Linked DNA regions of Homo sapiens. The protein of the gene in region 7 interacts with the protein of the main gene of each other region in a biochemical or structural test. Each region holds a gene or a part of one and is shown on either strand. Other genes may lie near its edges.

Region 1 (3,500 bases), on a different chromosome or scaffold from region 7:
ACTCGTCACAGTAACTGAATGGATAGTAGATTCTGATACACTAGGCTGCATCATGTGACCACCTCTCTGATCAGGTCCCATGATTGACAGCACCCCAACCCAGCCCTTTCCCACAGGAAACCAGAAGTAGAAAACATGGTAGTCAGATAAAAACCATGGCTAGGGCTAGGCATGGTGGCTCACACATCTAATCACAGCACTTTGGGAGGCTGAGGTGGGCAGATCACTTGAGGTCAGGAGTTCGAGACCAGCCTGGTCAACATGGTGAAACTCCGTCTACTAAAAATACAAAAATTTAGCCAGTGTGGTGGCGCATGCTTGTAATCCCAGCTTCTTGGGAGGATGAGGCGGGAGGATTGCTTGAGCCCGGGAGGCAGAGGTTGCAGCGAGCTGAGATTGCACCACTGCACTCCAGCCTGGGTGACAGAGAGAGACTCCATCTCAAAAAACAAACAACAAAACCCATGGCTACCACTGTCCCCGACAATTGTCCTAGGTCTTCTCTAAGTTCACTTGACTCCGAGGATGGGCTGTTTCTGTCTCAAGCTTTAGAGTCAAGCAAAGATGGGTTTAAATCCAGGCTCTATCACTTACTGTGGCACTCAGGACAGCTGCTGAATCCCCCGAGCCTTGGATGTTCTCACCACTAACTGATGAATGACGCGAATGCTCACTCTGCAATGAATGAGACACTGTGTGAAAAGCCTGGCACATACAGTTGGGTGTTCAGCAAATTCAGTTCCTCCCTGCCTGCCTGTCTGCCAGCTGCACCCAACCTGCAGCTGCAAACCAAATAACGAATATTTTCTGCACATCACCTGGCATGTAACCCTTGGGTTACATGAGTGAAACTGACTTGGCCAACTGCCTTCATTGCCCCTTACAGTTTTGTTCTCCCACTGACCAGCCGTAAATGAAGTAGTCGGCCTCAGTGCTGGGAAGTGAGACACTTAAACTAAATTGGTGGTTTCTCAACCCTGGCTGTCCCTTAGAATCATCTGGAAGGCTATTTAAACAGCACCAAAGTCAAGGTGACATTTCCAGAGATTCCGATTCAGTCATTCTGGGGTGGGGCATTAGAGGTTTTTGAAGCTCCCCAGGTGATTTTCAAAAAAACCATAGAACTCTGATTCTGCAAGGAAATGAGAACCCAGAGAGGGCAAGCAACTAGCCCAAGGTCACACAGTAAGCTGTTAACAGATCCTGGTCTGGAATCCTGTACTTGGGGCTCTCTGTGCTTCTGGAAACTACCTCTCTATGTCTGTGGCTTCTCCTCTTCCCTCTCCCATCCATCCTTCTCAGAGCCTGTATGTGGTTAGCTCATGCCAGCTGAGACGCTTGGAGTCAGCCAGCTACTCGTCTGTCTGCTCCCACATGGCTGAGACGTTCCAGGGCAGCACAGTGGTCCGGGCATTCCGAACCCAGGCCCCCTTTGTGGCTCAGAACAATGCTCGCGTAGATGAAAGCCAGAGGATCAGTTTCCCGCGACTGGTGGCTGACAGGTAGGAAGAGCCAGGGCAGAGAAGACCTTGCAATTCATCCATATCCTTAGAGGGTGAGACCTGAGGTCATATTGTATGGTAGAGAGGTCACCCAGAGAGTCAGGGACATAGTTGAGGCTAGATCCCACAGGCAGTCTATCAGTTCTCACCGTGGGCAGATGGAACATGACCGAGAGATTCTCAACAGCAGGTGGGCGGGGGGTACAGGAAGAAGCTTCTGTTGCCAGGCAACTGGATCAACCTCTTTTGCCTTGGTGATAAAGCAGCCATATAAGCATCCTCAGCCATCTTTAGGTACTAAGCAAGAACAAGAACACAAGCTTTAAGCACAAATAGACACAGGTTCAAATCCCAGCTCTGCCACTTACCAGCTGGTTGATTTCAGGCAAGTTACATAACCTCTCTGAGCCTCATTTGTCAAACTGGGATCGTGCTCATGGAGTGGATATGAGGATTAAATACAGACACTCATAGGTAAGACCTGTAACATGCTTACTGCATGCCTGGCACTGTTCTGAGCAATCTATGTAGATTAATTTATTTAATTCTGCTAACAGCTTCACCAGGAAGAAACTGTTCTATAGATGATAAATCCTAGGCACAGTGAGGTTTGGAAACTTGTCCAGGGTCTCACAGCTAATACTGGCAGAGCCAGGATTTGAATCCAAGCAGTCTGGTACCAGAGTGTGGAGAGGGTCAAGTACACACTAGGTGCTCAATACATGTGAAGTCCTTTTTCCTTTCATCTCAGGTCCCCAGCCAGCTGGGGCTGTGTATTAGTCCATCTTCACACTGCTAAAAAGAACTACCTGAGACTGAGTAATTTATAAAGAAAGGAAGGTTTAATTGACTCAGTTCCACGTGGCTGGGGAGGCCTCAGGAAACTTACAATCATGGTGGAAAGGGAAGCAAGGCACGTCTTACATGGCAGCAGGAGAGGGAGAGCATGAGGTGGGAACTGCCGCATCCTTTTACGCCATATGATCTTGTGAGAACTCACTATCTCGAGAACAATATGGGGAAAACTGCCCCCATGATCCAGTCACCTCCCACCAGATCCCTCCCTCCACATGTGGGGATTACAATTTGAGATGAGATTTGGGTGGGGACACAGAGCCAAACCATGGAGGCCATGGTTCAGGCCAGGGGAATGGCAGGTGGACATGGCTTGGCAAATTCCAGGGACAGAAAAGCAGCCACACAGGGATGCTCTTCAGAACACCGAGTGTACCCCAGACCCTAAAGTGGGCTTAGTTGAGACAGGACGGTGTCATCTTCCTCTACTCCCTGAGCCTGGGTTGCATGTGGAGGCCATTGCTGGGACCCCTGTGTGTACAAAGCTGGTGTGATGACCAGTCCTTGTGCCCAGAGAAGCATCTCCCTGCAGATGAGAGTAACCACTCACCCTGCTGTCGCTTCCCTTTGCAGGTGGCTTGCGGCCAATGTGGAGCTCCTGGGGAATGGCCTGGTGTTTGCAGCTGCCACGTGTGCTGTGCTGAGCAAAGCCCACCTCAGTGCTGGCCTCGTGGGCTTCTCTGTCTCTGCTGCCCTCCAGGTACTCCCCACATCCCCAAACTGGGCTTGAGGGACAGACAGAGGCAGAGACTGTCGGACCCCTGCTAGTGGGACCTTTGAAGACCCTGTGTCCAAACCAACATGGTGTGTGGAGTCCCTCCACCAAGGAGGGACACGCAGCTCTACAAGAGCCAGACTCAGCTAAGGTGAACTTGCAACCTTGGGCAAGAGTCTTTCCTTGTGGAGTGTCAGTGTGCTCCTTGGAAAGACAGGCCAGAAATCCCACTACTTCTGATGTTATAAAGACTAGTTGAGACAAAGCATATCCTGTGGAGGACATTTCTAGTGCATTGTTAACTTTTGTTTTGTTTTGAAGACAGAGTCTCTCTCTTTTACTCAGGCTGGAGTGCAGTGGTGCAATCTCGGCTCACTGAGAACTCTGCCTCCTGGGTTCAAGCGATTCTTATGCCTCAGCCTCCCAAG
Region 2 (3,500 bases), about 96 Mb from region 7:
ATCAAAAATTGAAATGTTGAATTTCTCTTGGTCTTTAGGAGGGGCTGGATTCTCATTGTATTTCAGAAGCACACATTATCAGATTAATCTGTACAAGTTGAGAGAAAGAGAAATACAAAAGCAAGCCAGCATTTTGGATTAGCTAGCTAACATTCGTGCTTAAAACTAATTGCATCATTAAGAACATTTCTGCTTTTCTTAGCAACCATATACATACTTGGAATATAGTATACAGATGCTGCTCATTACTGTTATGACCAAAAGGCATGTGGCTGTAGATGATTTCACTTGTTGCAAATTATCTTCTTATCCATTAGCATCTCATAATTAATGGACAAGGATCTGAACTGCAGTGATACTGGGTGGCTTCTATTCCATACAGTGGGCAGTCTGCACAAAACTCATCTACCATGATTTTTACCTTTTCATGGTGGTTAAAACTAAGGATGTAGCCATCTAGCAAAAAGCCAGAATTTTCTCATAGAATATGTGTGTATGTGTGTGTGTGTGTGTTGGAAATTCCTTTATGCTTGAGGCAGGCATGGAGTGATTGGATAGAACTCTAGCATGTAGCTCCAACCCTGGTTTTGTTTAATAAAGGCCAAGATATCCTAACATAACCCTTGGATCTCTAATTTAATGGCCTGGATTACCTTTCAAAGGTTTAACGCCCTGGAACCCTCTGAAAAACCAAGAAAATGTATCCTATTGGGCACTGCCTGTCCTTTTCACTTGCAGGCAAGCTGAGTCTTTGGTCCTTAAAGGAGAGTCTTTACTAATGACATCAAAATGTCAGCCAATGAGCATCTTGCAAGGCTGCTTAGAGGCCCTGGAGGGAATATCTGGTTCATATAGATTTGGTTCTTGAACTTTTCTGGTTGCTCTGGCTCAGGGTTTCTCAGCCTTGGCACTATTGACATTTGAAGCTGAATGATTCTTTGCTACAGAGCTGTCCTGGGTATTGCGGGGTATTTAGCAGCACCCCTGGCCTCTTCCCACTAGATGCGAGTAGCACTCCTCCAGACCAGTGTGACAACAAACAATGTCTCTAGACACTGCTGAATATCCTCTGGGGATCAAAATCGCCCTAACTGAGAACTGCTGCGTTAGTGAGGTTGCCCATAGTACCCCATGCTGGCCATCAAGAGAGTGCCCACAGAAGTGTTTACAGCTGGCCTAAACTTTGTTGGCGCCTTCGTTTGATTCCAAAACCACGAGGATCCCTCTGGAGTCATGTACCCCTTACAGTCTGTTCAAATTTTCTATTTCTCTTCCATTGAATCCATATGAAATCCTAAGAATTCACCTTCAGGTTTAGCCATTGATGGATCTCATCCATTTCCCACTTTGTTCTTTCAGAATCTTGTCTGCTTTTAACGTAAATTGTCCATACAACAGCCCCTGCTCCCAAGACTCTCACAAATGCCTGCAGCTTTGTTACTTGTGCTCGTTCAAAGCTTACAAATGACCATTTTATGGCCTAAACCTGGGAAGTGTTAGGCAAAGTCAGCTACGATCTTGTTAGCATTTCCTCACTACGTGTTTCAGGATTGCTTTAACAAAATCTGATTCCTGGACATGCTGGGTAGATCATCTATTGAGTAGAAACATGGAGGAGACAAAGGGTAAATGGTACGTGGTAACACAGTTGGAACGTGTTTCTCAACTTGTGTTCTTAGCAGCCAAGCTCTGCCCCTGACTCTGATCACAGGCAAAGGAATAAAGTCTCATTTCAATCCTGAGCTTCTCCTAATTCTTGTGGATCAGAGCTGGGATTATGTCCATAGCTAACCTGGAGTTTGCCAACTTTTGCAACCCATAATTAAAATGATTTCTATATATCACTGGCGTCTATACTTTTCTTCATTCATGGCACAAGCATTTCTTGAGCATACGCATTTCTGTAGGTACTAGGAATGCAGAGAGGCTAAAGAGCTCATAGTCTAATGAGGGGACAGGTGAGTTAACTGATAGGGGGAATACAGAAGATCAGCAGAATGAGGGAACAGAGAGGGGCGGGTGATGATTCACTGTGCTTTGGGGGGCCTTGAAAGGCTTCACTGTCCAGAGAACATTTAAACTTGATCTTCAAAGATGACTGCCATTTCTAAGGAGAAGAAGGAAAGTGATGCCTTCATGAGGCAGAAAAGAGTGGACAGGCAAAGGCGCAGAGGTGTTGGTGATTCTACAGCTCCCAAAAAAGAAGACTTAGAGGGCCCTAAGCGCAATAATTTGTTTGGAGGAGCAGGTTAGGGCACCTGCAGTTTGATACACGTACAACCACATGGCTTTTCATGTAATAAAAGCCTGACCGAATAAAGTCAGAAATCAGACCTGTTGGGTTTTTTTTTTTTTTTTTTTTTTTTTTTTTTTTTTTTTTTTTTTTTTTTGAGAGAGAGAGAGTCTCACCCTGTTGCCCAGGCTAGAGTGCGGTGGCACGATCTCAGCTCAATGCAACCTCCCATGTTCAAGCGATTCTCCTGCCTCAGCCTCCCCAGTAGCTGCGACTACAGGCATGCACCAGTAGAGACTGGGTTTCACTATGTTGGCCAGGCTGGTCTTGAACTCCTGGCCTCAAGCCATCTGCCTGCCTCACCCTCCCAAAGTGCTAGGATTACAGGCATGAGCCACCACACCCAGCCTCTACTGGGGGGATAATTATGGGTATGAACAAAAATGAGAGACTGGTCAAAGCACATTACTCTCCAAGGAGCCCCTGGGCATCACAACTGCAGAGAGTGAAGGCATATTGAGTGTTGCCCAAGTGAAGTTTGGGGTGCCTGGAGAAGAGGATGTATCTTGCTGTGTGCAGGATAATAGTGTTCAACAGGTAGGATAGTGGTAATTACGAAGCGTCTCACTGTGCTCATCTCAGGAGTTTGGACTTGTGTAGAGCAGTGATTCTTAACCTGGAGGTGACTTTGTCCCCAGGGGACATTTGGCAGTGTCTGAAGACACAACTGGAAGTGGTGGTGTATTAATTTCCTATCACTGCTGTAATGACCACAAACTTAGTGGCTTCAAGCAACACAAATTTATTGTCTTACAGTTCTGGACCTCAGAAATCCCAACAGGTTTCACTGGGCTAACTTCAAGGTGTTGGCCTGACTGTGTTCCTTCTGAAGGCTCTAGGATCTGTTGTGGTTCCTTTTCCAGTGGCCCCCTTCCTTCATTTTCAAAGCCAGCCAAGTTGCATCTCATCCACTCTTCTTGTGTGGTCATTTCTCTCTCTCGCTCTTTTCGGGACTCTTGTGATTACATTGGGCTCACCTGGATAATCCAGGATAATCTCATTATTTTAATGTCAGCTGATTAGTGACTTTTAATTCCACCTGAAACCTTAAGTTCCCTTTGCTATGAGGTATTCACATGTTTTAGGGATTGGGGCGTGGGCATTTTTGGTGGTATATTATTCTGTCTACCACAGGGGAGTTCCTACCGGCATCTAGTGGGAGGCCAGGGATGCTTCTTTTAAATACCCTGCAGTGCACAGCCCCACA
Region 3 (3,500 bases), on a different chromosome or scaffold from region 7:
GATTATTGTTGTCCTTTAGGTCAAGATAAGAGAAGTAAAAGAACCACTTACATTTCACAATGATGAAACCAATTACCAAAAACATAATTTCCTACTTCATTAATGGTACTTTCACACTGACTCTAAAAGTAGAAAAATTGAGGAAAACTAGCAATTACATTTTGGTGATAATTACCCTGCAAGTTAGTGACAGATCAAAGATCAGATAAATTTCCTGACTCTGGTTTTGTCACAAGCAAGACTGATTAAAACTTAAAAAAATGGTTCACGTAATCAAAATGAATTGTAAATGGTAAATGAAAATTACTAAGCATTACCTACACTAAAATAAATGTTTGTAAGAGTAATTACAGCACAAGAAATAAGGAACAAAAGGGTGGTTTATATGAGTAGAGTTTTAGGTTAAAAAGTTGCCATCTTTGCTCTTTTATTAAAATAAACTACCTTTTAAAACATTTTTATTCAAGAATGATTTTTATTTTCAGGTTAAATATTAATCAACTATAAGATGTCTCGAAAAATAACTCTGAGGGATTTATAGCCAGCATTAGGTAGGCAGGCCAACTCAGACTTTACTAAAGTAAAACGTTAAGTAGTTTTACCTTTTCATGAAATGCTGTGATCAGCCAAAGATCCACATCAACACTGGTGCCTCGTTTTTCTGCACCAATGAACTGTAATATGTTCTCATGCTTCATTCCAGGCAAACTGTAGACTTCGTATTCATTTTGCCATGACTGTTTGTCCTAGAGTCAAAAAGAAAGAATAGTAAGAACACAAGGAATACAGGTTTAATAAACCATGCATAAGAGATTACTCAAATAAGTTCCAAAGTAAAACAAAACAAAACAAAAAAGTCTTAAAAAATTTTTTGTTCTGTTTTGTAATAAGAAAAAGCTCTGACAATAGGTTAACAAATTTATACTAAATGCCTGCCCTTTTCATTCCCTCAAAACGTACTTTTCTGTGTTTCTAGTTTACAAACACAGAAGGTGATCGGAAATGCTGCATTCTGTGTCTTACAATGGCAACACGTAAGTTACTGCAAGTATTACACTGTAATTTCATCATGGTGTGAAGTTACTTGTGGTACTATTCAGAATAATCTCCTTGAAAGATGAAATTCCGGCAGAATGACTTCCTCTAAATAGAAAACTTCTTCTTTTCAAAAACTAACATAATATCAAACATCCTTCAAAAAATGTTTAGCATACCCTACAAGGTCTATGAGAAAGCAAGGGGCAAAGATATGCAATGCAATAATTTAAGACACCATATATTCACTTGTGCCTGCAAGCAATCCATGTCTACTAAGTATCTACTTATAAAAGATTAGCTTCTTTTCACTACTAAAAGACAATAATAGTAAGAGGCACTATGGCATAATGGTTAGAAACCCTTAGAAACTCTCTGCATCCAAACTGTCCAAACTTAAATCCTGGCTCTCCCACTAACCTCTGGCAAGTTACATAATCCTTCAGTGTCCTCATTAAGTAGAAAAGGCATTGTAGTGTCTGTCTTATAGAATTGTTGTATTATATGTTGCATTTTATGTACATGTGGGTAATATACGTACACATATTAGTGAGTACTCATATATGTAAAACACCCCTACCTGACCCAATAAAAGCATACAATAAAATGTTAGCTACTGTTGTTGCTGTTGTCGGGCTTGTTAATATCATCCAAATGCCTTTCTCTGAGCTTTATGCTTCCTTACACATGGAAATAATTTCTTCCCTTATCTTATTTATGAATCTTGGCACAACAGAATACACTTTCTCTCTGAAAACTAAACTGTGGTTTACAGCTACCAAAAAAAAATGTAATACAGTTCATAAACTCTATGTAAACAGTTTATAGACTGAACAGAGGAGGTAAGATTGAACAGAGGAGGTAAAAAGGTTAAAATCTAGGTATATTAAGACAAAGAAACTGCTTATATGATAACTTTGGAAAAAGAAACATCCACTCTCTAAGTATGGTGGTAGAGCCTGCAACACCAAATCCAGCCAAGACGTCAGTACCAAGGGTATCATGAGCTGCCAGGGTATATAAGCAAGAGATGGGGAAGACAGAATCATCATAAATCTATACCACCAACGGAACAAAACAAAACACAAGAATAGCTCAGAGGTACATTAGATCAGAGTTTTATGAGAAGTCCAGCCAACCTTAAAAACAATTCAACAGTAAACCAATTATTTGAAGTCTCGATTGCCTCTGAAAATGCATCAAACAAAAACTGAAATAATTAAACACTCAAAGTAGAATGAAAGTAAGTCAAGTCTGGTGATATACCTCTAAATACCAATTCTAAAACAAAGTATACTGCTCTTTTGTTTTTTTGTTTGCTTTCTCTGACAACGTAGGGGGATATTAAAATTTAACCACTCAATTAGACTTGTTTATTGGAATCTTTATCTTTATTTAACATTTCTATTAGAATTTTCACTGGCAAAAGATCTACTATGCATTCATTTAATTCCACCACTCCAGACAAACATAATGATTGTTATATTAACAATTCCATTTCTCAGATGCAAAGGCAGGCATTAAAAGAGCTAACTGCTTTCCCCAGTATCACAAAGAACCACCTTGGTACATATGGCTTCTGTTTTGAGACTATTTCTGAGTTATGATGACCTAGCCATAAAACATGTATGTAAGATGACAAAACTGCAATAAACATACCTGTATTGGAAATATTTTGACAGCCACATATTCGTTAAGCAACTGGGCTTTCCAGACACAACCAAATCTTCCCCTTGCTTTCACTTCTAATAACTGCAGTGGTTTCAAACCTAGTAATGGAGAAGGTGGGGGTGGTCCTGGGTCCTACAGATAAATAATAATAATACTATAAATAAGCAGAACATGACACACACCAACTCTGAAAATGAGAAAAAAAGTGAGTATACTGAAAAGTCAACTGACAGAAACAGTAAACACATATGAATGACATTAACTTCAATGTTGCCATAATTAGATTACTAATTATCTATAGTGATCACAAGGCAGGCAACCTGAATTCAGAGTTTCATAATAATGTTCAGCATTATTGCTATATATGTACCACAGGAGAGAAGATCTAAAATCTTTCTGATCAGTCTCAGTAATATTCCCCACTAAGATTTTCTGTGAACTACGAAATACTCCTAACAATATTTCATTTGTTTCATCCAGTGTGTACTTCGAGGAGGATGATTTGAAAAGTGCCAGAAACAGCAAATTATGACTATATATCAGCAAAAACCTCTCCTGAAGATCTATTACTTTCTCCAGTGACTGTTTAAATTTTTTCTTCATTAATCTCAGAGATACCGGCAGTCATTCTTAAACACATTGCAGATAGGTATATCAAATACAAAGCACATACAGGAAATATGTAAGTAAATATTTCTTTAACCAAACTGGTTCATTCTAATTTTAAACATATTAACAATTCATCCCTTTGATCTGAGATAAAAAATCATTTGTGTTCTGGAACTGACTGACTG
Region 4 (4,179 bases), on a different chromosome or scaffold from region 7:
CGGCTATATGGCTAAGTTCTGCCCAATGGGATGTAAACAGAAGTATGAACAAAATATCAGACATGTTCTGAAAAGAAGACAGTGTTCCCTTCTCATTTTTTTTTCTTTTTCCTGCTGGTTGAAATATATGCATGCTGACTGGAGCTGGGGCAGCCAATTAGGCCCAAGGGGTCTGCATTTTAGGGATAGTGGAGCAAAAAGTTAGAGGGTAACTGAGCCCTTGATAATTATGTCAGTCATGCAAACCCTCAATTACTTACTTCTAGACTAAGCTTACCTGTGAGAGAAACATCTTCCATCTTTTTACAGTTCTGTTTTGGGGGGGTTTCTGTCACTCCCATTTGACTTTTATCTTAACTAATAGAAAAATATAAAGAAAATGAAGCAGAGTAAGGGACTAGAGAGTGGCACAGTGTGATATTTTAGACAAGGTGATAAGGGAAGGATTTTATGAGGGATTGTTATCTGAGCAGAGTCCTGAATGCATGACTGTGCCATGTGAGTAGAGGGAAAGTATGGAAGGGGGAAATAGTAAAAGGAATACAGTATCTATTTTCATTTTGGAAACCAAAATTAACATAATGATTATCTGTTGAGGACACCATTTCAACCAGGGAAAGGGGGAAATAGTAAAAGGAAAGGGGGAAACAGTAAAAGGAAAAGCCCAGAGATGAGAGCACGTTTTTGTGTCCAGGGACCATCAAGGAGGCCAAACCTTTTGACAGGCAAACCTTTCAAATCTTGTCAGGCCTGCAAATGAAAATCCTTGACCCTAGACATTGTAAAGACTGGTCAACTTTGCAGGGACTGGTCTCTGTAGGCCCTTCAAAAAGCATGACCCAGTTATGAGTCTCAGCTTTTACCCAGCTTCATGGCTTATCCTCTAATGGTTCATTTCAAAATGCTTCCTGAGTTCACTATTCAAATACTACATACTTTTCTCAACCTAGCATGAGTTCTCACTACAGCTTAAGAACTGGCTCTATTGATCCACCCCACATTACTTCCTTTCTTCTTGAGTCTACATAGATATTACTGCCTATATTGTTCATTTTAATTATGAAAAATCTATCATTCTGTTCTGATTCATGCATGTGTCTCTTGCCACCTCAATTAACATGTAACATAAGAGCTAGATGTTTAAAAGTGTTTAAAATCCCTTTTGGCTACTATCTGTTCAACAGAAAGTGCTCACTAAAAACTTTCTGCATGTCCAATGAACGTTTCATTTAACCATCTCACAAACTAGAAACACAATGGAGAGAGCCTAATCTTTCCCTGTTCCTCCCTTTCGCCAGGAAGATATGAGTAGCTAAAGTATTTGGTGCTATATATAGCCAGTTGATGTCAGCTGAATGCCAGTCTCTTCAGAAAAGCTCAGTCCCCAGTTTGAGTCAGAGTAGGGACCATGCTGTCCCAGGTTCAAGGATAAAAACCATCAGGCCCAAGTGCCATCCATAGTCCATCTCCAGAGTCTTCCTCCACAAACTGGGATTCATCCCCGCTGAAAAAGCACAATCTAACAGCAAGGTGAGTATGTTGTTTCCTAAAATGTTTCATTAGTCAGTTGTCCAAGGATATTCAGAGTTGTGACTCATAAATGGGCATTCTCTGCTTTAAAGGGCAGCTGTTGCCAATATTAAAATGCTACCACCAAAGAATTCTGGTTTAGTCTAGTGTCTTCTTCATTCTTACAGTTTGCTGGAATTGATGGAGTGTGATGCTGGTACAAATGAAGGCCAGTGAGGAGACAATGACAGACTAAAATACTGTGGAGAAAAGAGAGGGAGGGGAAAGGAGACCAGCAATTTCATTGTTTCTCACTGCCTGATGATCATTGTATTAATGTCCAGACTGGGTCTCTGTTCACTGTGACATTGCCTGTCAATGAATAACATACTCTGTCACCAGATAAGGAATGCGTATTGAAGTCTTTCAGTAGCAAGCGATAATAACTTTTTAATAAAGAACAAAGATGTTGTCTTTCAAAACAGTGATTATAAGACACTCCAAATGAGTTCTTCACATTGCCTCAATAATGTCCCTTTGTTTTTAACAGGGAACAAAAAAACCATGCTATCACATAATACTATGATGAAGCAGAGAAAACAGCAAGCAACAGCCATCATGAAGGAAGTCCATGGAAATGGTATCAATAAAAATCCTTCGTAGCATTAATATAGCACAGCATGAATGTGGCTCCATCCTGACGTTGTTTAATATTCCATAGTTTACTTCCTTTAGATTCTTGCTGTTCTGTCATAACAAACCTGGAGCTCTAGGGGGTGTAGAAAAGCCTATGGTAACTAATCCTTTTGTAGTCATCCTTTCTCATTTGGAAGCTATTTTCAGAGGAACAACTGCTGTAAAAGGCATGAAGCAATCTGACAGCTGATGTACATTCTGCTTGGCTTGCCTTCCACATTATAAGTTAAGATCACTCTCGATTCTTTTTTTTTTCTGGACAAGTCTCATACAATCTTGTCTTTATTGTCCATCCCACATGGTTTAGCTTGATTTCTTTTACCTTACATTATATAAATCACTCAAAATAAGTTCTATCATCTTTTTTATCAAGCTATTAAGTTGGAATTCATATTTATTGCTTATTATTTAACTCCATTTCTATTGCTTATTTATTTAACCCTTCATATTTGTTAATTGATTTACTAACATATTTTGTGTGCAAAGTCTACTTTTATTTGTAACTTCTGAGAAAATATAAAGTTATTGTAGTCTCAAAGCATATGACTCAAAAAAATTTTAATATATATTACGTGCAAGGTAATATTTCACTCTCTCCTTTTCTTTAAATTCTAGCAACTAACTTGAGAAAGCAATGCTTTATAACTTGCATTTTGATTCTTATAAAGGAAATTCAACTTTGTTTATAAGCAACGTATAGCATCAGTTTTAAATGTTAAGAAAAATATTCAGGTCCTCTTAGGAGCTGATTTGAGCCATTCCAGATATATTAGTGGCATTTTCAGAATGCCTCCTTATTTCCCCTGTATTGACAAGGAATGCAGCCTTTCACCACTACAATATTGAGACCTAGAAGCTTGAGACCCGGGAAGAGTATTGAGCATAATGTTTTCATATTACACCTTCCATAAAGCAAGAGGAACAGAATCAAAGACTTTTAGATGCTCCCCACGCAATGTAATCATAACTAAGAGGTCCGTTGTTGTTTTCTATTTTCTGCAATACAGAACCACTGTACTGGATTCAACTTGGTTCTCATGTTTTACTGTAATGTCAAATTAGCTTGGAATAAAATGAGAATAATTCTGAGTCAGATACCAGAACTGAATTCATACCAATCCAAAGTTCCAAAATTCATGCCTTATTTAAAATTTCATGCATCTTTGTGTTTCCAGATTCAAGTAGTTTACTTGAAATTATTTTTTAGCTTTTCTGATCAATGTGGCAAAAATCAGATGATCACTGGAGTTTGTGACAAAATTGTTTACCTTAAAATAGACCTTTCATGTTATTATTTTCTAATGACATCCTAATCATAAAACAGTCAGTCCATTTAATGTATTCTAGCCTAAATCATGTGTTGGAATCTACTGTTAGCTCTGACATAGATCTATAAGGGTAAGAAGTTTTTTTTCCTTTTTTTTATAAACATAACTATTGTTTTTATAAAAAATATGTGGGAGAAAACACACAATTATATATCAAAGTGGGGGAAACCCTCAAAACCACTATCTCACCACCAGTAAATCCTAGCCACGTAAAGTCAGCTGAAGCCCTCCCTCCCATGTCACTGGATGAGTACCAGCTCCCTTAAGAGGAGTCACATGCTCTGTCTTTGTTGGAATGTCAAGTATTTCAGATAACATGGGGATAATCAGACTCTTTCCAAGCTCATCCCAGATGAAATAACTTCAGTACTTTATGAAACCGCTCAAATATTTTTCTTCTCTTATTTCCTCTGACATTTTATATGGAACTTTACTATTTGTGTATAGCATGATGTTTAGAGATCTGGAGCTAGGGGAGTATAATTTTTTCTCAGGATGCATAATAAAATGGACTTCAGAGAAACTTTTTTGGGAATGATCCTCCAAACTTTCAAACATTTTACAGGAGTAAAAATCTGGATAATTTAAGATAAAACATGCAACTGCTTTGATCTTAATTGTAAGACTAAATAAATCAAATTTTGCC
Region 5 (3,500 bases), on a different chromosome or scaffold from region 7:
AAAATTTATATTTTTATTGTATTTATTGTATTTTATTGTGTTTATTGTATTGTTATCTTTTTTCCAGTGGTCAGTTACTAGAATATTTTTTGAATATTTTCTAACCTAGGTTTGTTGAATCTGTGGCCATGGAACCTGAGATATGGAGGGTTGGGTGTGGAGGGGGGTGACTGTGCTTACTACTATAATCCTGCTTTTGATTAGTTTTCCACTGGCCATGTACTTAAGGGTAAGGTGGATGCGTCCCCTGCCCCAGGGAGTGAATTTTGATTAAGCCATCAATTTTAGTAATGCCATACCTTTTGCCAGTGACTCATTAATGAATATGTATGTGACGCCTGTTAGGTCCTGGCATATTTGAAGCATAAGGTTGTCAGCACAAGAGAACAAGTAGCACCGAGTGCAGACTAAAGGTGGCCTAAGACCACAATTACTTTTTTTTTTTTTGTCGGTGTCAGGGGTGTAGGAGGCGGGCGGGTAGAGACAGGGTCTCACCATGTTGCCCAGGCTCGTCTCGAACTCCTGGCCTCAAGCAATCCTTCCACCTCAGTTTCCCAAAGTGCTGGATTACAGAGTGAACCACCATCCCCAGCCCACAATGACTTATTTTAGCTGCTGATTAGCCAGCCCTAGAACCACTGTGACTCAGAACTTCTGTGAGAAAAAACATTTTCGTTATTGTTTCTTTCTTATCTTTTTTTTTTTTTTTTTTAAGCTAGGGTCTCACTCTATCACCCAGGCTGGACTGCAGTGGCATGATCATGGCTCACTGTAGCCTCTGCCTCCTGGGCTCAAGTGATCCTCCCACCTCAGCCTCCCAAATAGCTGGGACTACAGGTGTGCACCACCACACCTGGCTAATTTTTGTATTTTTTGTAGAGATGGGGTTTCCCCATGTTGCCCAGGCTGGTCCCGAACTCCTGGGCTCAAGGGATCCTCCCACCTTGGCCTCCCAAAGTGCTGGGATTACAGGTGTGAGCCACTGTGCCCAGCCTCATTATTGTTTAAGATCAGTGGTCCCCAGAGTGGAGTGTGCTAGATCATCCAATATGGGAGGGAAGAAAATATTCAAGAATGTTAGAAAAAATTAAGCTTTTAAAATATTTAATGTATGAGTTGACACTGGTTGGTATATCTGGTAGTCTTTTATCAACTTACATTATATGAGGTTGCCTGAGGGAAGACTGGGCCTTTTACAACCTGGTGGAATTGACAGTGGTACCCTCATTCTTATTCTTGCCTTTGGTGAACTCTATCCATCTAAATACATTTATGGCTAGATTATCTGGTTTTAACTAAACTGACCCCCAGAAAATGGGCGAGTGGTTTAAAAAGATTCTTGCAAAGAAAGTGTAATGATAATGATATAAGTATAAAGGAACAAGAAAATGTTCTTATGAGTTTAGAACATGACTTTTAAAACAAATTTGACAAGAAGGTGGCTCAAAAATTATGTATGGGCTGAGCGCGGTGACTCATGCCTGTAATCCCAGCACTTTGGGAGGCCAAGGCGGGCAGATCACCTGAGGTCAGGAGTTTAAGACCAGCCTGGCCAACATGGTGAAACCCCGTCTCTACTAAAAATACAAAAATTAGCCAGGTGTGGTAGTGTACACCTGTAATCTCAGCTACTCGAGAGGCTGAGGCAGGAGAATCACTTGAACCTGGGAGGTGGAGGTTGCCGTGAGCCAAGATTGTGCCACTGAACTCTAGCCTCGGCGGCAGAATGAGACTCCGTCTTGAAAAACAACAACAACAACAACAAAATTATGTTTGGATTTGTATTATTAATAAAAATGAACTTAAAAATACTGTTTGACTCCCATCCTTTAAAAGTTTTAAATGTTGTATAATGTATATACTACATTCATGTGTGTGTATACATACCATTCATAACTAGTTTTAATTACACATAAATTAATACAATTTATAATATGTTAGTATATATGTTATAAATTTTTTCCCCTGAAATTCCTGAGCTTCAATACGTTTTTAAAATTTTTTACTTTTTATTTTTTTAGAGGGAGTCTTGCTCTGTTGCCCAAGCTGGAGTACAGTGGTGTGATGATAGTTCACTGCAGCCTCCAACTCCTGGGCTCAAGTGATCCTGTCCCCTCAGACTCCCAAGTATCTGGGACTACAGGTGTGCACCATCACACCTGGCTTAATTAAAAAAAAATTTTTTTTTTGAGATGGAAACTTTCTCTGTTGCCCAGGTTGGAGTGCAGTGGTGCTGTCTCAGCTCACCATAGCCTCTGCCTCCTGGGTTCGAGTGATTGTCCTGCCTCAGCCTCCTGAATAGCTGGGATTACAGGTGTGCACCACCACACCTGGCTAATTTTTGTATTTTTCATAGACATGGGGTTTCACCATGTTGGCCAGGCTGGTCTCAAACTCCTGAGCTCAAGTGATCTGCCCGCCTCGGCCTCCCAAAGTGCTGGGATTACAGGCATGAGCCACCGTGCCTGGCTAATTTTTTTTTTTTTTTTTAACTGATAGTCCTGCGTGATCAAAAAAGCTTTGATACCACAATTTAAGTCACTTAGAGTTAGGTATTTTTGTTACTTGCAGCTGAAAGCATCATACCTGATATAAGGACAGATAAGAGTAGTAGCTGTCCCTGTTTTATTCTTAGCTTTCAAGAATCTCTGTGATCTGGACCCTAACTTGTTTGCAGGCCCAGCTGTCCTCTCCTTGTCTCTGCTAATACCACTGAACTCCTGCCCGTCCCTGATACTTTGTTTCAATTTTGCCTCTTCCCTCACCCTACCACCACCACTGAAATTTTGACTTTCAAGGGCTAGCTTAAATAAATATTGCTTTCTTATGAACATTTTTTCTGATTTACTCCCGCTTCCACATTTCAGTTTTTCTTTCCTTTTAGTCTCCCTAGTACATTGTACATTCATTATAATGTCTTTCTCTGTTTGCTTTTTATTATTAAGTTGTTCGCCTATTGGCTTTGCAGATGGGTTGTAGGCTTTTTGATGGTAGGGGGTCCTGTCTTACCTTTCTCATTTAAAAAGAAAACAATCTGTTTCTCCTTTGGGAGAAAGGGAGACAGAGAATCCACAGTTGTTAAACATCACTCTGGACTTGTTACTCTGGGGTGGGTCTCGCCTCCAGCCTTCTGGCAGCCTTAGGAAGGCAGGGAGCTCCATGTACATGAAAGGAGATTGAGGGCAGGGAGCTCACAGAACCAAGACAGCAGGACCCAGGATTCAGACCTGGAAAATTTTTATTTCCTGGCTGGTTTGTGTGCCCTCATGCATGTTATTTACAGTGCCATGTTCTTTCACATGGGAACACTGACACAGGTGAAATGGGAGGTTCCATAGGATGATAGTGCAAAAACATTAAAGACAATCCTAGCAGATGCAGTGAGTTCAAGGGAGAGTCCTTGTGGAGTAACACGAAAGGCCTGGTGGATGAGATGTATGAAGATCTAAATGCCTGCAGATAGTGAGCTGTCTGCAACTACCACAAAGCAAAATCATGGG
Region 6 (3,263 bases), on a different chromosome or scaffold from region 7:
ACGCTCGTCTTCTCCTCGCACGCCGTGGTGTCGCTGCGCGACGGGCGCCTCTGCCTCATGTTCCGCGTGGGCGACTTGCGCTCCTCACACATAGTGGAGGCCTCCATCCGCGCCAAGCTCATCCGCTCGCGCCAGACGCTGGAGGGCGAGTTCATCCCGCTGCACCAGACCGACCTCAGCGTGGGCTTCGACACGGGAGACGACCGCCTCTTCCTCGTCTCGCCGCTGGTTATCAGCCACGAGATCGACGCCGCCAGCCCCTTCTGGGAGGCGTCGCGCCGTGCCCTCGAGAGGGACGACTTCGAGATCGTCGTTATCCTCGAGGGCATGGTGGAAGCCACGGGTGCGAGCAGGCCTGGGGAGGGGAGCGGGGTTGGCAGAGGGTGGGCGGGACCGAGGAAGGCAGGGGCGAGACTAGGGGCCAGGGGAGCTGGGGAGGATGGATGGAGGGGCTGGTGGAGGATGAGACAGTGAGGTGAGACAGGGGTCGGAGGCGGGAGTGGAACCGAGCAACGCCGCAGAAGGCCAAGAGAAAGCTTGGAGGAATTCTCCGAAATGGCACTGGCGTGGGGCCCTGGGCCCAGAGGAATGTGTCACTTGGAATAGGGACAGTAATAATAGCTAGTGCTCGCCCAGTATTCACCCTGTGTCATGCGCAGTTCCAAAGCACTTTCTACCTCTGAGTCGATTTAATCCTAACAAGAACCCTCTGAAGGTAACTTCTTGTTATTGTGCTCACTTTTTAGAGATGAGATTGCTCCAATGAGAAATTAAGGAAGTTGTCCACTTTCCTAAGCCAATAAGTGGCCATGCCTGGATTGGACACAGGCAATGTGGCTTCAATGTTTAGTGGTCCCGAGTTGGAAGGAGGGGTTAGGTTCAGGGGTTTTCTCACTGCAGTCAGGTTCAGGCCCCTGGAATTTGACGGTGAAGGTTTTCCATTGCCTGAGTTATTTCTAGGCCGGATCTTGAGGGGAGTTTAATACCTAGTCTCACTTGTACCTCGGTTTCCCAATTCATCCATTTCCACTGACAAGGGATATAGATGATGTTACCTTTTCTAGCTCTTTTCCAAAAGGAACTGGCAACTCATCTGTGATGTCAATAAGTCCAACCCAGACCTACACAGTGAAGGCTTTGGGAGCAGGTGAAAAAAGACCAGTGTTACAGGAGTCGCAAAGGAGGTCACTTAGGACTTGAGATCTAGAGGATAGATGAGGATGAGGAAACTGCGGGTGGAGGACCAAAGGCCCACTAGGGGGCGCCGCAGTCCCTCCTCTGACGCCAGAGCTGCTGATGCTCCCTGCCGGCTTCGCTGACAAGCTGGTGCCTTCAGATCCTTTCCCTGGCCCCTTTAGGCTGAGACTCCGCTTCACACCCCAACCCCAGCTCCGCATCACTGTTCCCATTCCTGCTTCACCCCGACTCTTTCCTCTTCCCCCACTCACCCCGTTCCCTTTCCTCTCTCTCCAGCTGTCACTCCTTTTCTGCCAGTATCTCAGGCAGGCCCCTCACCCTCCAGGGAAGTTGCTGCCCGGCCCTCTTTTCTCTTTGTACCCCCAGCCCTGCCCTCTCCTCCTCGAAGCCCTTCTCTCCCCAGTGTCCCTTATGCCTCTTTCTCTTCTCTCCCACTGGATACTTTCTATTCCAACTTCACCGAGGAATACCAATGTCTCAGCGCCAGGCTTTCCGAGTTGACAGCCACTCTCCGGTTAGCTAATGTTCACTCTTCTGTTTCCCCTTGTTCCGAGATGGATATGGGTTGGGGGCAAGACCCTGTGGCAGAAAGGAGAATGACCTGCCCTGAGGGGTGCACCAGCCCAACAGGAAGATAGGACACAAGCCCCGGGCAGGGAGGACCAGGACAGAGGAGATGAGGATAGGAATCTGTCTGTTTTTCTAGAGAGATAAAGCTGGAAAGGATGGTAATATTTTGGGTGAGACAGTCAGGATTCAAAACGCTTTTGAAAAGCAAGAATAATGAGCCAAAACCCAGCAAGATGACATTTAAAATGAATAAATATAAAATTCTACATTTAGGCTTTAAAAAAATCACTTATGTAAGCACAGCATGGAAGAGCACTGGTGAAAAAAGAACTGGGAGTTTTAGTTGGCTACAGTCTTGATGTCGTAGCAATGTGATGCAGCCTCCAAAATGATTATGTAATGTTATCCTGGGCCCTATTAGTGAAAGCATCATGGCCAGAAGAGAGAGATGGTGCGCGCTCTCTTATGCACGGAGCAGGCCACAGTTGGAAAATTTACTATACTCAAAATGCTTAAAGGGCCCTCCTTGGCCATTCTGGCTTGTAATCAAAAAAGTAGAGTTCTGGAAAACCAGGTCAAATGAGGAATCGTGGAGGAAGCCAGGGATGTTAAGTCAAGAGAGAAAACATGAGGGAATCTGAGACTCCTGTTTTCAGATACTCAGAGGACTGTGAAGTGGGAGGGGAATGAAGCCAAGAGTTGGAAATCCCAGGGTACAGGTTTTAGCTCTGTATAAAGAACAACCCAACTATTAGAGCTATCATACAAAGGAGTGGGCCCTTTATGAAGTGGTGAGCTATCAATCCTGGGAGGTAATCAAGTATAAGCTAGATGCCCATTGTTAGAAATGCTCCTTTGGGGAGCCCTGTATGGAGTGAGAAGTTGGACTAGAGGATCCCTAAGGTTAGTTTCAAGGTTAAGCTTTTTTTGGTTGGCATCACCAAATGACAGGAGGGGAAAAAAGAGCTGGACATTAAGAGGAGTTGGGGCAAATGGAGAAGACACGAGGGAGCTGGGTAAGAACAGGAGCTAGGGAGGGGGGGAAATGGACTGGACCAAAGGGAGGTGGGAGCCCTTAGGAAGGAATAGAAGGGAGGGTGCTGGGAGTAGGGTTGTGGAATGAGAAGAGGAGAGGGAAGCCTGGAGCTGAGATTCCCCCTGACCGGTGCCCCTCCTCCCAGGAATGACATGCCAAGCTCGGAGCTCCTACCTGGTAGACGAGGTGCTGTGGGGCCACCGCTTCACGTCAGTGCTGACTCTGGAGGACGGCTTCTACGAAGTGGACTATGCCAGCTTTCACGAGACTTTTGAGGTGCCCACACCTTCGTGCAGTGCTCGAGAGCTGGCAGAGGCTGCCGCCCGCCTTGATGCCCATCTCTACTGGTCCATCCCCAGCCGGCTGGATGAGAAGGTGGAGGAGGAGGGGGCGGGGGAGGGGGCGGGTGGGGAAGCTGGGGCTGACAAGGAGCAGAATGGCTGCCTGCCACCCCCAGAGA
Region 7 (3,500 bases):
TCGGCACTGACTAATTGGTGAAAAGGACCTGAGAATTATCTCCTGCATCTTGGCCCCTTTGCTTTGAGGACCCTGAGCTCTCTCAGTGATGTGTCACTCAGCTGTCTCTTTGGGATGCTCAGGCTTGGGGAAGACTCCTCTCCACAACTGCCCCACACCTGGCCAAGCCGTATGTGCACCTGAGTCAAAAGCAGTGGTGAGGATCCCTAGAGGACCAGACTCTGCTGGGAAACCACCCAGGATCTCCCTGTGGCCAGTAGTGCCTGGAGCACCATGCCCAGTGGTCTACTCTGGATACCTTGGTGCCGCAGGAAGGATGTGTTTGGTGAGCCTTCAGTTGCTGAGAGAGAGATTTCCGGAGGTTCTTCTCTTTGATGACCTGCAGGAGGGAGGGGGGAAGAAAGGGTTCCAGGCCCCACTCCTTCCTAAAAGCAGAAGAAAAGTAAGAGATTAGTGAGAGAGGCAAAGTGGGACAGAGAGAAGATGGTAAGACAGAAATTGACTGAATCTGAGAGGTAGAGATGGAGGAATAGAGACTGGGAGAAAGAAAAAGGGACAGGGATAGGAAAATAACATTAGCCACAGCTCCCTAGTAGAAGCTGTAGCTCTAGGGCTTCATAGTCTAGATATGAGGGACTCCAATTCTCACTCCCATCCCATGTCCTACATTTCTGAAAAGCATAGCATAGCTCAACCAGTGTACCTTTTCCCTACGCAACTATTCGCCCCCCATCCCAACGGGCCGCAGCACAACTCACTCCACATTCTTGAGCGAGATCTTCTGACTAGGTCGAGTGGCTGAGACAGTGATATAGATGTGGAGCGCAGCAAGGCCCAAAAGCATCTCTGGCTTGGGATCCATTCCAAAGCGTTCTCGAATAACATCATTCCGACTCTGTGAGAGAGGGCAGTCCAAACCTATCAGCTGAAGGAGACATTCCTTCCCCACCCCCTGATCTACTCCCTTACATCCCAGACAATACTCATAGTATCAGTAAGGCATGCTAGATCAAGGGACAGAGGAAGGAGCTCCCCTTGGAGAAGAGACAACAGAGGAGGCTCAGGTCTCATAGACACTGTTCACTTTATTCAGCAGATACTAGATAGCCTTCTCAGTGACAGGGGCACACAATGGCAAGGTACAAGCAGACAGTCCAGTTCACTGCAAAAGTGAGACATGGCACCACTCCCTTTCTTTCCTCCTTTTATAAGAGACTTTCCTACTTTTTTTCATGGGGGTTATACTCACCCCCAAGCCATACAAGGCTCCTTTACTAGCTCAGATGGAAACAAGGGGAGAAAGATACTGGGAGGGACTCTCCACAGGGCCCTGGCCCAGAAGCCCAGGGTGAGAGCTGAATTGCAGGGATGGGGGAGGCATTCTTCTTCTTGGTGTCTGAAGGACAAAAATGTTGATGAGTCAATCTTCCCTATGCTATCCTAGAGGAGGTCTCCAGGAACTACTGGCCAAGGGTATGACAACCCCCAAACCCTGAGGGTCACAGCCCCAGCTATCAATGAGTCAGCCTTGGTTAGACCAGTTTCCCATTTTGTTAAAGTGGAACCAGTATGGACTAAGGGACTAGGAAGCCACAGTGATATCACTATAATATAGGAGAGAGTGGAAAAGGAATACATCATCAATGATCATCTATGTAGAAAATTCAGTGGATTCTATTACAAAAAACTACTACAACTACAGTTTTCCCTTGGTATCCATGGAGGATTTCTTCCAGGACCCCCATGGATACTGAAATTTGTGGATGCTTAAGTCCTTTATATAAAATGCTGTGGTATTTGCATGTAACCTATGCAAATCCTCCTGTATACCTCTATCACCTCTAGATTACTTATAATGCCTAATACAATTAAAATGCTATATAAGGCCAGGTGCAATGGCTCATGCCTGTAATCACAGCACTTTGGGAGGCGGAGACTGGTGGATTACCTGAGATCAGGAGTTCAAGACCAGCCTGGACAACATGGTGAAACCCCGTCTCTACTAAAAATACAAAAATTAGCTGGGCATGGTGGCGGGCGCCTGTAATCCCAGCTACTTGAGAGGCTGAGGCAGGAGAATCACTTGAACTCAGGAGGTGGAGGTTCCAATGAGCCGAGAGCGAAACTCCATCTCAAAAAAAAAAAAAAATTGCTATAGTGCTATGTAGGCCAGATGCTGTGGCTCATGCCTAAAGTCACAGCACTTTGGGAGGTTGAGGCAGGTGAATCACTTGAGGTCAGGAGTTTGAGACCAGCCTGGCCAACATGGTGAAACCCTGTCTCTATTAAGAAATACAAAAATTAGCTGGGCGTGGTGGTGCATGTCTATAGTCCCAGCTACTTGGGAAGCTGAGGCAGGAGAATTGTTTGAACCTGGGAGGTGGAGGTTGCAGTGAGCCGAGATCATGGCACTGCACTCTAGCCTGGGTGACAGAGCGAGACTCTGTCTCAAACTAAACTAAAATAAAAATGCTATGCAAATAGTTATTATATTATATTTTTAAATTTTGTATTTTTTATTATTGCACTGTTATTTTTTATTGTTTTTGAATATTTTCAAAATCCACAAATATGGAACCTGTAGATATGAAGGGCCAAATGTAGTGAGTTTACCAAGGTTTCAGGATATAAGATCAATACACAAAAATCAATTGTATTTCTATTCTTTTAAAAATAAATCTTTTTGTATAGAGATGGGGGTCTCACTATGTTGCCCAGGCTGGTCTTGAACTCCTGAGCTCAAGTGATCTTCCTGCTTCAGTCTCCCAAAGTGCTGCAATTACAGACGTGAGCCAACATGCCCAACCCCAACTCTATTTGTATATGCTAGCAAGAAATAATTGAAAATTGGAATTAAAATCAAAATCATTTACAATAGCATCAAAAAATATGAAATAATTAGGGACAAATCTGACAAAACATATGAAAGACCTATATACTGAAAACTACAAAATACTGCTGAGGAAAATTATAGAAGGTATAATTAAATGTAGAAATACTGTGTTCAGGGATTGGAAGGCTCAATATTGTTAGGATGTCAATTGTCCCCAAATTGATCTATAGTTTCAACACAATCCTAATCCAAATCACAGCAGGTTTTGGTAGAAATTATCATGGTGATTCTAAAATTCACATGAAAATGCAAAGGACCTATAATAGCCAAACCAACTTTGAAAAAGAACAAAGTTGGAGAACAAATACTTCCTGATTTCAAGAATTATTATAAAGCTCCAGTAATCAAGAGTGTGATGTTGACATAACGACAGACAAGTAGACCAACAGATCAGAATAGAGAGTACAGGAATAGATCTATATATATATATATATATATATATATATATATATATATATATAGACAACAGATTTTTAACAAAAGTACAAAGGCAATTCAGTGGAGGAAGGATACTCTTCTCAACAAAAGGTGCTATAACAATTGGATATCCATATGCAAAAAAAAACACACACACACACACACACACACACACACGAAACTTTGATGG

The links.
Region 1: the proteins of FRMPD3 (region 7) and ABCC6 interact in a test that uses a peptide from one of them, tested with the Homo sapiens proteins (one large-scale study listed by IntAct).
Region 2: the proteins of FRMPD3 (region 7) and ARHGAP6 interact in a test that uses a peptide from one of them, tested with the Homo sapiens proteins (one large-scale study listed by IntAct).
Region 3: the proteins of FRMPD3 (region 7) and ACVR2A interact in a test that uses a peptide from one of them, tested with the Homo sapiens proteins (one large-scale study listed by IntAct).
Region 4: the proteins of FRMPD3 (region 7) and MYOZ2 interact in a test that uses a peptide from one of them, tested with the Homo sapiens proteins (one large-scale study listed by IntAct).
Region 5: the proteins of FRMPD3 (region 7) and TANC1 interact in a test that uses a peptide from one of them, tested with the Homo sapiens proteins (one large-scale study listed by IntAct).
Region 6: the proteins of FRMPD3 (region 7) and KCNJ9 interact in a test that uses a peptide from one of them, tested with the Homo sapiens proteins (one large-scale study listed by IntAct).

Annotation. Positions count from the first base shown.
Region 1 is NC_000016.10:16,160,995-16,164,494, reverse strand, and holds part of ABCC6 (ATP-binding cassette sub-family C member 6), read left to right. Parts: intron 1-1,302; coding exon 1,303-1,502; intron 1,503-2,930; coding exon 2,931-3,057; exon of another isoform or gene 3,058-3,223; intron 3,224-3,500.
Region 2 is NC_000023.11:11,659,421-11,662,920, reverse strand, and holds part of ARHGAP6 (rho GTPase-activating protein 6), read left to right. Parts: intron 1-3,500.
Region 3 is NC_000002.12:147,914,529-147,918,028, reverse strand, and holds part of ACVR2A (activin receptor type-2A isoform 1 precursor), read right to left. Parts: intron 2,839-3,500; coding exon 2,695-2,838; intron 747-2,694; coding exon 603-746; intron 1-602. UniProt on the Homo sapiens protein: On ligand binding, forms a receptor complex consisting of two type II and two type I transmembrane serine/threonine kinases.
Region 4 is NC_000004.12:119,134,453-119,138,631, forward strand, and holds the start of MYOZ2 (myozenin-2), read left to right. Parts: upstream 1-1,379; 5' UTR 1,380-1,530; intron 1,531-2,059; 5' UTR 2,060-2,073; coding exon 2,074-2,149; intron 2,150-4,179.
Region 5 is NC_000002.12:158,975,140-158,978,639, forward strand, and holds part of TANC1 (protein TANC1), read left to right. Parts: intron 1-3,500. UniProt on the Homo sapiens protein: May be a scaffold component in the postsynaptic density.
Region 6 is NC_000001.11:160,084,538-160,087,800, forward strand, and holds part of KCNJ9 (G protein-activated inward rectifier potassium channel 3), read left to right. Parts: coding exon 1-343; intron 344-2,948; coding exon 2,949-3,263. UniProt on the Homo sapiens protein: Inward rectifier potassium channels are characterized by a greater tendency to allow potassium to flow into the cell rather than out of it.
Region 7 is NC_000023.11:107,557,652-107,561,151, reverse strand, and holds part of FRMPD3 (FERM and PDZ domain-containing protein 3), read right to left. Parts: intron 896-3,500; coding exon 759-895; intron 426-758; coding exon 299-425; intron 1-298.